Linked DNA regions of Homo sapiens. The protein of the gene in region 2 purifies or fractionates together with the protein of the main gene of each other region. This does not show direct contact. Each region holds a gene or a part of one and is shown on either strand. Other genes may lie near its edges. The genes, in order: ZC3H14, WSB2 and NKTR.

Evidence for each region.
Region 1: the proteins of WSB2 (region 2) and ZC3H14 purify together in Homo sapiens (affinity purification with mass spectrometry; 2 studies listed by BioGRID and IntAct, with this or other methods). This does not show direct contact.
Region 3: the proteins of WSB2 (region 2) and NKTR purify together in Homo sapiens (affinity purification with mass spectrometry; 2 studies listed by BioGRID and IntAct, with this or other methods). This does not show direct contact.

What each region holds. Positions count from the first base shown.
Region 1 is NC_000014.9:88,604,428-88,608,084, forward strand, and holds part of ZC3H14 (zinc finger CCCH domain-containing protein 14), read left to right. Parts: intron 1-2,815; coding exon 2,816-2,936; intron 2,937-3,657. UniProt on the Homo sapiens protein: RNA-binding protein involved in the biogenesis of circular RNAs (circRNAs), which are produced by back-splicing circularization of pre-mRNAs.
Region 2 is NC_000012.12:118,034,666-118,037,318, forward strand, and holds part of WSB2 (WD repeat and SOCS box-containing protein 2), read right to left. Parts: intron 1,846-2,653; coding exon 1,673-1,845; intron 660-1,672; coding exon 549-659; intron 429-548; coding exon 321-428; intron 1-320. UniProt on the Homo sapiens protein: May be a substrate-recognition component of a SCF-like ECS (Elongin-Cullin-SOCS-box protein) E3 ubiquitin ligase complex which mediates the ubiquitination and subsequent proteasomal degradation of target proteins.
Region 3 is NC_000003.12:42,638,684-42,642,340, reverse strand, and holds part of NKTR (NK-tumor recognition protein), read right to left. Parts: coding exon 2,591-3,657; intron 1-2,590. UniProt on the Homo sapiens protein: PPIase that catalyzes the cis-trans isomerization of proline imidic peptide bonds in oligopeptides and may therefore assist protein folding. Component of a putative tumor-recognition complex involved in the function of NK cells.

The DNA.
Region 1 (3,657 bases), on a different chromosome or scaffold from region 2:
TAGTCTCTGCACCACTTCCCCTGTGAGCAGGGAGTTTGAAACTGCAATTGCTTCTGGTTGGTTTTATGTTGGGTTGTTTCAAGGATGCTACCAACAACAACATCTGTTTTAACCTGCTGTCTTTTCACTCACTGTCATATGGCAGCACAGATTTTATAGCTTGCTTTCTTTGTTTTTTTTTTTTTTGAGATAGAGTCTCTCTGTCCCCCAGGCTGGAGTGCAATGGAGCCATCTCAGCTCACTGCAACTTCTGCCTTCCAGGTTGAAAGCCATTCTTCTGCCTCAGTCTCCCAAGTAGCTGGGATTACAGGCATGCACCATCACACCTGGCTAATTTTGTAGTTTAAGTAGAGACGGGGTTTTACCATGTTGGTCAGGCTAATCTCCAACTCCTGACCTCAAGTGATCCACCAACCTCGGCCTCCCAAAGTTCTGGGATTACAGGTGTGAGCCACCGTGCCTGGCCTATAGCTTTCAATAAAAGGTGAATTTGCCTCTTAAAATTTGAACAGAAAGTTTTAATAGTTTACAAAGTCGGTGTCAGCCAGTGAAGACTAGGGGCATGACCTTCGTATGACTTAATGTTTTTAAAAGAAAGATAAAGTTTCTTTGTAAGGTATTATTGTAATAATCACATTTCTTTGTAAAGTATTATATTGTTCCTGAGTATCTAGCTACTTTGCTTTCCAGCTAGGCTTCTCTTGGGTATTCTCTTAATCTTTTATTTGTACTGGGTTCTTGTGTATATATTATAGTCTGCTGTGTGTAATTTATTATAGGAAAAGGGTAAGACACATTTACTTTGCGGGGATGACACAAAAAACCTGTAAAAATTAGAGAAACTTCCAGTCATCTCACATTTTCTTTGGAACCGATTATTCTTGTATCTTAGAACTAAAATGACTTATACTGTTTTGTTTTTAGAAAGGGTATCCCTCCTGTTGCCCAGGCTGGAGTGCATTGGCACAGTCATGGCTCACTGCAGCCTCCACCTCCCAGGCTCAAGTGATTCTCCCACCTCAGCCTCCTGAGTAGTTGGTTACTACAGGTGCACACCACCATGCCTGGCTAATTTTTTGTATTTTTTGTAGAGATGGGGTTTCACCATGTTGCCCAGGCTGGTCTGAAACTCCTGAGCTCAAGTGATCTGCCCGCCTCGGCCTCCCAAAGTGCTGGGGTTACAGGCATGAGCCACCACATCCTATTTAAAGCTTAAATAGGACTTTTACTATTTTTAAAGTAGCATAGAAAACTGTTTGTATCAGGCATAGTCATAATTGCTCTTTGATGCTGCTCCTATCTGGGCTGCATGACTACATTTGTGTGCCTTGTTCTCCTGTAGTGAGGACAGAATGTGGGTCACTGGAACAGTAAGTACTCATAGAACTAGCTGCTGCTGCTATTACGACTGGTTGCCTGTTTTGCATTTTTTCCGTTTAATCATCAGACTCTAAGGAAGACATTATTTTCTCTTTGTATAGATGAGGAAACAGAATTCCAAAAAGTTAGCTAACATTTGCACAGAGTGTCTGGCTGAGCAACTAAGTGGCAGAGTCAGATTTTAACTGACCTCTGGCAAGAGGACTAGAGGAATACAGTTGAAGTGATACTTGCTTTCATGAACATGAATGTGAACCATAATACATAATACCCATGATGCTATTTTGTGGGGAGTTTAAGGTGTCTCAGTCCAGAAATTAGCAGCTGATTATTGCCTGTAGCTGTAATTTTACTTATTCAGTGTTATTTAATAAATTGCCAGCATTACAATTTCGATGAAGGCAGATTTTTGGCTTACTGAAACAGGATAAAAATCTGGCAACAGGGGTCCCACTTTGCCCTGTCATAGTAATCGAAGCTGTGATTGGATGTGGCACAGGGAGTGGAGTGGATGGGTGTGCACTTGCTTTCCAGGCTGCTGCTCCCCGTCTGTCCCTTATTGCATTTATCATCTTCAGCCCAGTCAGTCTTGCTGTTAGGGGAACTGCCCAGTCTCTGTAAGTGATGGCATTTGTGACCCCATTGTAGGTAAAAATGTTTTCCCCTTTTTAGACATTGCTGGCTGAGCGCGGTGGCTCATGCCTATAATCCCAGCACTTTGGGAGGCCGAGGTGGGTGGATCGCTTAAGTCCTGGAGTTCAAGACCAGCCTGGGCAACGTGGGGAAACCCTGTAGCCAGGCGTGGTGGCACGTGCTACTTGGTAGGGGCTGAGGTGGGAGTATCACTTGAGCCTGGGAGGCAGAGGTTGCAGTGAGCCGAGATTACACCACTGGCACACCACTGTACTCCATCCTGGGTGACAGAGCAGGACCCTGTCGTAAAAAAAAAAAAAAAAAAAAAAAGTAAAAGACATTGCTGAGTTTCGCACCTGGACTTACAGCTCAGCAGGTGGGAATCCTTTTGTATTTGGGCCACTCATCATCTTGCTGGCGTGTGAGGATTCACATCTCCTTATCACCTTACCTGTTTTCAGTTTTTATTTAATTTTATTAGTTCCCCACTTGACGTCCTTCTCTATTTTTAATTCAGCTATGAATTAGTATTGAGAATTAGAATTTTTGGTGAAAAATTTGGCCGTAGTTGCAGAGTCACTGTCCTCTTTCCTTTTCACAGTGAGAACTGTTGTCTTCTTCCTGGCAACCTTTTATAGGATTCTATGGCCAGTGTTAATCCCATAATTTGAGCTCACTTATTTTATATGACTGTACATTTAACAGAAGATTCTAAGACAGGTTTGAGGGAAATATGTTAAAGGTGCTGTGTACTGAATTGATCATAATGAATGAAATACTTTTATTTCCTTTCCCTTTGTAGCTGAGATGAGTGAACTGAGTGTGGCACAGAAACCAGAAAAACTTTTGGAGCGCTGCAAGTACTGGCCTGCTTGTAAAAATGGGGATGAGTGTGCCTACCATCACCCCATCTCACCCTGCAAGTGAGTACCATCCCCCCATCTCACCCTGCAAGTGAGTACCATCCCCCCATCTCACCCTGCAAGTACCATCCCCCATCTCACCTGGCAAGTACCATCCCATCTCACCCAGCAAGTACCATCCCCCACATCTCAACCCTCAAGTGAGTACCATCCCATCTCACCCTGCAAGTACCATCCCATTTCACCCTGCAAGTACCATCCCCCATCTCACCCTGCAAGTACCATCTCCCCATCTCACCCTGTAACTACCATCCCATCTCACCCTGCAAGTGAGTACCATCCCTGCATTTCACCCTGCAAGTACCATCTCATCTCACCCTGCAAGTACCACCCCCTCATCTCACCCTGCAAGTATCATCCCCCATCTAGCCCTGTAAGTGCGAGTACCATCCCCCATCTTACCCTGCAAGTACCATCACCCACTTCACCCTGCAAGTACCATCCCCCACCTCAGCCTGCAAGTACCATCCCCCACCTCAGCCTGCAAGTACCATCCCCTATCTCACCCTGCAAGTACCATCCCCATCTCACCCTGCAAGTATCATCCCCCACCTCACCCTGCAAGTACCATCCCCCATCTCACCCTGCAATTGAGTACCATCCCCCATCTCACCCTGCAAGTACCATCCCCCATCTCACCCTGCAAGTGAGTACCATCCCCCATCTCACCTTGCAAGTACCATCCCCCATCTCACCCTGCAAGTACCATCCCCCATCTCAC
Region 2 (2,653 bases):
ATAGATGTTACCTGTAAAGTGGTCTTTTAGCCCTAAATGGTTTCCCATATATTATGCATCATCTCAATTTTATTCTCCCTTGTGAACTTGGCCCATTAGGTGGCATGACTTACAGATCTTTAATTACATTTAGGTTAAATATTCAGAGAAAATGGGACACCGTTATTAGCAAAATCGATCATTTGAGTTTTATATAATCTTGAATTGCCTTAAAGCTTTCCTCATAGGCAAGAAAATTCTAGATGGTTTCTTTCCTTAAAAAGCTCCATGGTATACTCAGCAGAAAGCACCACCCATCTGTTCAGCTAACAAATACATACCCTGTGGCAATGACTCCACCATGTGGAAAAAATGTGCAGCAAAGCCCATTGGTCATAGGAGCAAATGCAATGGGAGTTTTCAGTTCCAGGGCCCAGATCCTGAGGAGTCTGGATGGGGAGAGAGAACATCTGGATATTAGCTGACCCAGGGCCAGACCAAGAGGGCCTTGCTGCCATTACTTGCAAGCACTTGTTCTGAGGCCATGTAAAGAGAGTTCTCTTCGTTACCTGTCATCTGCCACCGTGGCAAGGTACAAGCCTTCTGGAGAGAAGCACACAGATCTCAGTGAGCTAATGTGGACGTCACTGTCATCCATGGCGGGGTCAACCTGGGTGTGGCTGGGAAGGAAAGAAACAGGATGGCAGGCCTGGAGTGATGGCTGCTCTCCACCCTCCATCATCACCCTAGGCAGGAAGCCAAACTGCCCTGGCTACAAAAGGGCTCAAGATGCATTGTGTGCCCCTCGTGGAAAAGCTTGGGATTTGCACACTGGGAAAAAAAAGGGTATCTCAGAAGGCTCCAGGTGTCCTGTGGATGAAGGGTTACTAACACTTCCTTGTGCTAATTTGCTTATGCAAAGTAGGTCAGCCCTCACTTTAATGCCACAGTAGAAACTGCAAGTCTTTTTTAGGCTAAGATACATGATAATTATAGGACTGCCTATTATTTGCTTCATAAAACAACAGACACAAAAGGAAAAAGGAGACCAAGTTTGTGAGAACATGAAACTCATTTTGGAAAGCACAGTTTCGATAAGAGGCTCTTTCTGAACTTGTTACTACAGTTATTAGTAAATGGAAATAAAGAGTCATATTGAGGCTTCATAATGCTGATTCCGAAGAAGTACACACAGCCACCTGAATCAGGAGACTGGAAGACACTCAAAGCTACTTGAGAGGGCTTAATTGACAAGGCATCACTAAGAAGCAATGAACCAGGCCAGGCGCAGTGGCTCATGCCTATAATAGCAGTTTGGGAGACTGAGGCGGTGGATCACCTGAGGTCAGGAGTTTGAGACTAGCCTGGCCAACATGGTGAAACCCCATCTCTAATAAAAATACAAAAATTAGCCAGGCCTGGTGGCGCACGCTTGTAGTCCTAGCTACTCGGGAGGCTCAGGCAGCAGAATCGCTTGAACCCGGGAGGTGGAGGTTGCAGTGATCCAAGATTGCGCCACTGCACTCCAGCCTGGGTGACAGAGCGAGACTCCGTCTCAAAAGAGACCCACTGTGCCTTTTTATCCAGCTTGTCCCCTCCCATGTCCCAGATTCTAAAAGAGACATGTCTAATCCCAGGCAGGTTCCTCATCAGTCCCCCCACAAAAAAGTCATAGCAGGGATTCAGTCCTTACTGGAGTGACCTCAGCCTTTCGCCGGTGTAGGGGTCCCACATAATCACATTGGTATCGTAAGAAGCCGTGACAAGCAGGGCAGAGTCGGGGGAGAAGTCACAAGAGACAACACTGCTTTGATGGCCCTCTAGCTTCCGAATTAACGTGTAGGACCTCATGCTCCATAGAAAGACCTGTGGAAAGTAAGAAGTGCCTGGTTAGGGCAGAAGCAAAGTGCTTAGGACTCAAACGGAGGGAGGGAAAGGTACCACCACCAAATCTGCAGGCCCTGCAGCCAGGGCTGATTCTCTATCCCTTTTCTACAGCTCTTCCAGAACGTGTGGTGTAGGTTTAAATAAGGCAACTGGTCTGGATTCTTGAGGATTTAAAACAATGGGCATGCTCAAGGAGCTCACTATAAGAGAGAATAAACCAGATCAGCCTTAGGAAGACCCCTGCTGAAACGCATGTGCAGAGACTTCTGAGTCTGCTTCTGAGTCCTGTTTGCCAATAGGGTAGTCGTATGTGCTGATGAAGACCTGAGCCAAGTGCTATCTTATTCCACTTAAAAATAAATGTCAGCGGCCAGGCACGATGGCTCATGCCTGTAATCTCAGCACTTTGGGTGGCTGAGGTGGGTGGATCACATGAGGCCAGGAGTTCAAGACCAGCTTGGTCAACATGGCAAAACCCCATCTCTACTGAAAATACAAAAATTAGCCAGGCATGGTGGTGCACGCCTGTAAGCCCAGCTATTTGGGAGGTTGAGGCAGAAGAATCACTTGAGCCTGGTAGGTGGAGGTTGCAGTGACCTGAGATCACGTCACTGCACTCCAGCTTGGGCGAAAGAGTAAGACTGTCTCAAATTTTTTTTAAAGGGTCAGAAGTGAAATCTGCGGCCACCCCACAAAGTAGTGGCAGGCTGCCAAGGCATTTTACACCCCCCACCTTGTGTATGGAACCATGGAAATCTGTCCCAAGACTGGGCCTCTGACCTAGCTC
Region 3 (3,657 bases), on a different chromosome or scaffold from region 2:
AAAACAACCATGGTTAAAATCAAACAGAAGAAAATAAAGAAAAACAAGAAAAGATTGGCACAAGTATGTTCATAGAAGCCTGATTTATAACACCAATAACACTGAGAAGAAAATAAACCAAATCTCCACTAATGGTAGAATGGGTTAAAAAAACATTAAGGTAGAGATATATAACGAAATATTCTGAAGAAAATGAACTACAGCTACATGTTTCAGCAAGGATATATCTCTAGAACACAATGTTGAATGAAGAAGGCAAATGTAGAACATCTATATATATAAAAGTATTTTACTTAATAAAAAGTGCAAACATAACATTGTATAAAGATAGAAACACTTGGGGTAAAGCTATAAAGAAAGACAACAAAATTATAACCAAAGTTTAGAATAATGGTTAACTTTGGGACATAGGCATGCACCTAGGGGTGGCACTGGTACATCAAAGCTCTATTTTTTTTTTTTTTTTGAGGAGTCTTGCTCTGTCGCCCAGGCTGGAGTGCAGTGGCGCGATCTTGGCTCACTGCAACCTCTGCTTCCCAGGTTCAAGCAATTCTCCTGCCTCAGCCTCCTGAGTAGCTGGGATTACAGACACGCACTACCACGCCCGGCTAATTTTTGTATTTTTAGTAGAGACAGGGTTTCACCATGTTGGTTAGGCTGGTGTTGAACTCCTGACCTTGTGATCTGCCCACCTCGGCCTCCCAAAGTACTGGGATTACAGGTGTGAGCCACCACACCCGGCCCAAAGATCTATTTTTTAAGCTAGATGGCAGGTACATGAGTATGTATTATATAGCTTTTTATACTTTTATCATTTTTTATGTCTAATACTTAATAAAACAAGCAAAAATGTAAGCAGTACAATTCTGCCCCTCTGCATTCACTTGGCTCCCCACCCTTCTCCCCTACTTTAGGCCTGTCATTCAGGAACAGAACAATACCTCTGTGTACAGGTGACATTATGTAATATCACCATAGGTTTTATTCAGTATGCACTATGTTTTGGAAGACATGACCTGCTTCCAGTATATCTGCAAGAAAATGAATACGTTATGTTCTAATAAGATTGTAGTCATTTATTCAACCAAAAATAATAAAGCCAGACCCTGTGAGGTGACTGAACGATGAGTAACACACAGTTCCTGACTTCAAGGAGTTCACAGCCTAATGGGGGTGTCAGGCCCAGGCAGGTAACCAAAACAGGGAGGCAGGGCAGCACCCAGGCTTATCCATCTCAGTCTACTACCTGTTAGCTGCATAGCCTAGAACAAGTCCCTTAGCCTTTCTACGCCTTGCTGTCTTCATTACAAACTGAAATACCACCCACTCCAAGGCAGAGGTGGGAAGGTAAATGAGAAGAGTGGCCAGCATCACGAATAGCTCAGAGCTGTCTCTGTGTAAATGGTTAAGGCAGATCATAAGCAGACAGGAAGCTGGAGTCGCTCAATAGGCAACTGCATCTATCAACAGGAACTCAGAGAGAAAAGGCCATGAGGAAGAAGAGAAGCCTAGAACACAGGGACGAAATGGCCTGAGTGGGAGAAAGGAGAGCTAGCAGAGGGCTCCAGAAGTGAGGCTGAAAATACGCCATGGTACTGGCCATCAGAAGTACCTGAAAGTCTTAGTCAGTAAACTAAGAGATGCGGGGAGGGGAAGGCACAGAAGGCAGCAAGCACACAGCCGAGGAGAAAATGGGAGACCGAGTATAGATGGCACGTGGCGGTTCCTTTTTTAGGAAGTCTGGGTAGGCAAGGGAAGAAAGACTGATGAATAACTAGAAAGGAAACAAACGTCAAAGATTCTTATGGTATTTTCAGTTCAAATGATGAATATCAAGCACAATAAAATAAGGGATATGAATAATTAAGAAACAGGTAAAACCATAAAATATTTACAAGAAAAAGAATGCAACACAACTGCTTACTAACTTCCTATTACCATCACAAATATTTTTAGTTTTTAATTCTCATCTCTGTTATCCATTCTATGCTGACAAGTTATGATGCAATTTATAACAATAACAAAAAACCTTTTCATGAAGGTGCAGAGTGACAAAGATGAGAAAAAGGTGTTTTAAATTCTTTTATTGCTTTTCAAACAACAACAAAAATCTAAAGATGATCATTTTTATCCCTATGCCCCATCTAAACTAAGATGCATGTCTTGGGCAGGTAACTTTGTCTCTCTGGCCCTCAACTTCCACATGTGTAAAATGGAAGGTTAGATTAATGATCTGCAAATTCTATATATTCTGTCAATTCAGGATTCCCTTCTAAGGCATCACTTGACTGGCAAGAAGCAGCCTCACACCTTTAAAGATGGAGAATTTACCACCTATCATGGGAACTCATTTCTAGTGACAGAGAGCTTTAAACTGATAGTAATAGTTTTGTAAACCCAGCCCAAATTTCTCCTCCTGAAATTCCCTCTCCCTAAGTTTTCAATCTACTCTCTGAATCACACAAAACAAGACTTCTTATTCCTTTCAGATATTTGGAAATAGTGATTCTGTCCCTAATTCTGATATTCTTCCAAGCTAAACAATAACAGACTCTCCTTGGGAGAAGAAAGGAAAGAGAATATTGCTCACCGATAAGATGATGTGGAACTTCTCGATCGACTTCTTGAGTGACTATAGGAGACAGACCTTGTTCTGTGTCTTGATTTGGTTTCAGATTTACTTCGAGATCTACTTGGACTCCTGGACTGGCTATCATCATCCCGACTAGGCGTCTGCTCATCACTTGAACTCTCCTGATTTCTTGGTCTACGGTTTAAGCGTGCTGTCTTTCTTACTTCATCAAAGAGAGACCCAGGCCGAACTTTATTTTTGCTTTTAATTTCTATTCTCAAGCCTTGTGGTTTCATTTCAGGCACAGTGGTCAACACCTTAACTTCCACAGCACTGGATGTGGCAGCATTAGGTGCTGCCAGGTTCCCCACACCTTGCAGGGGCTTCCATTTCTTATCAATGAGGTTGATCTGGCTCTTCTCAGCCACCTCCTTCTTCCCGGTACTTTCTCCAGCACTAGCCAAGCTAGCAGAGCTGCTGTCCTGTTTCCCCACTTCACCCAACACTTTACTTTCGGACATGCTGCTTTCCTGTTTTACTACCTCTGCTTGAGGATGTTCCGTTGCCATATCCTGCTTCAAAACAATGTTTATATCTGGGGTATCAAGCCGTGCATTTCCTAGAGGGGAAGTCTCCTCTACTTTTGCTGGGGAACTCCTATCAGGAGTGCAGATCTCCATGTTGTCATCTGTTTGAAGCACATCTTCCACTCCATTGGGAACACTTTCTTCAACGTGCTGAATGTTTTGTAAACAGGCCACATTTTCCTCAGTATTTAAAGCTGTGGGAGAAATACTGAGTTTACTATCATCTTTAGTAAACTGATCAAGATCTGATGAAACAGTCACTGTATCATGTTTACCTGAAAGGTCCTCTTCACTGGATTTCTCAGTTTTTAGAATATTATCTTTTATGGTTTCATTGTTTTCAGAAACTTTTTTCTCTTTTGATTCCTGAGTAACTTGCTTGTCATCAATCTCCTCCTCCTCCTCTTCACCAAATTCTAGTGGAGGCTGCCAGTGAAATGCTTGCTTTCGTTTTGGAGCCTTATGCTTTTTGTCTTTTTTCCCTTTCAATTTCTCTTT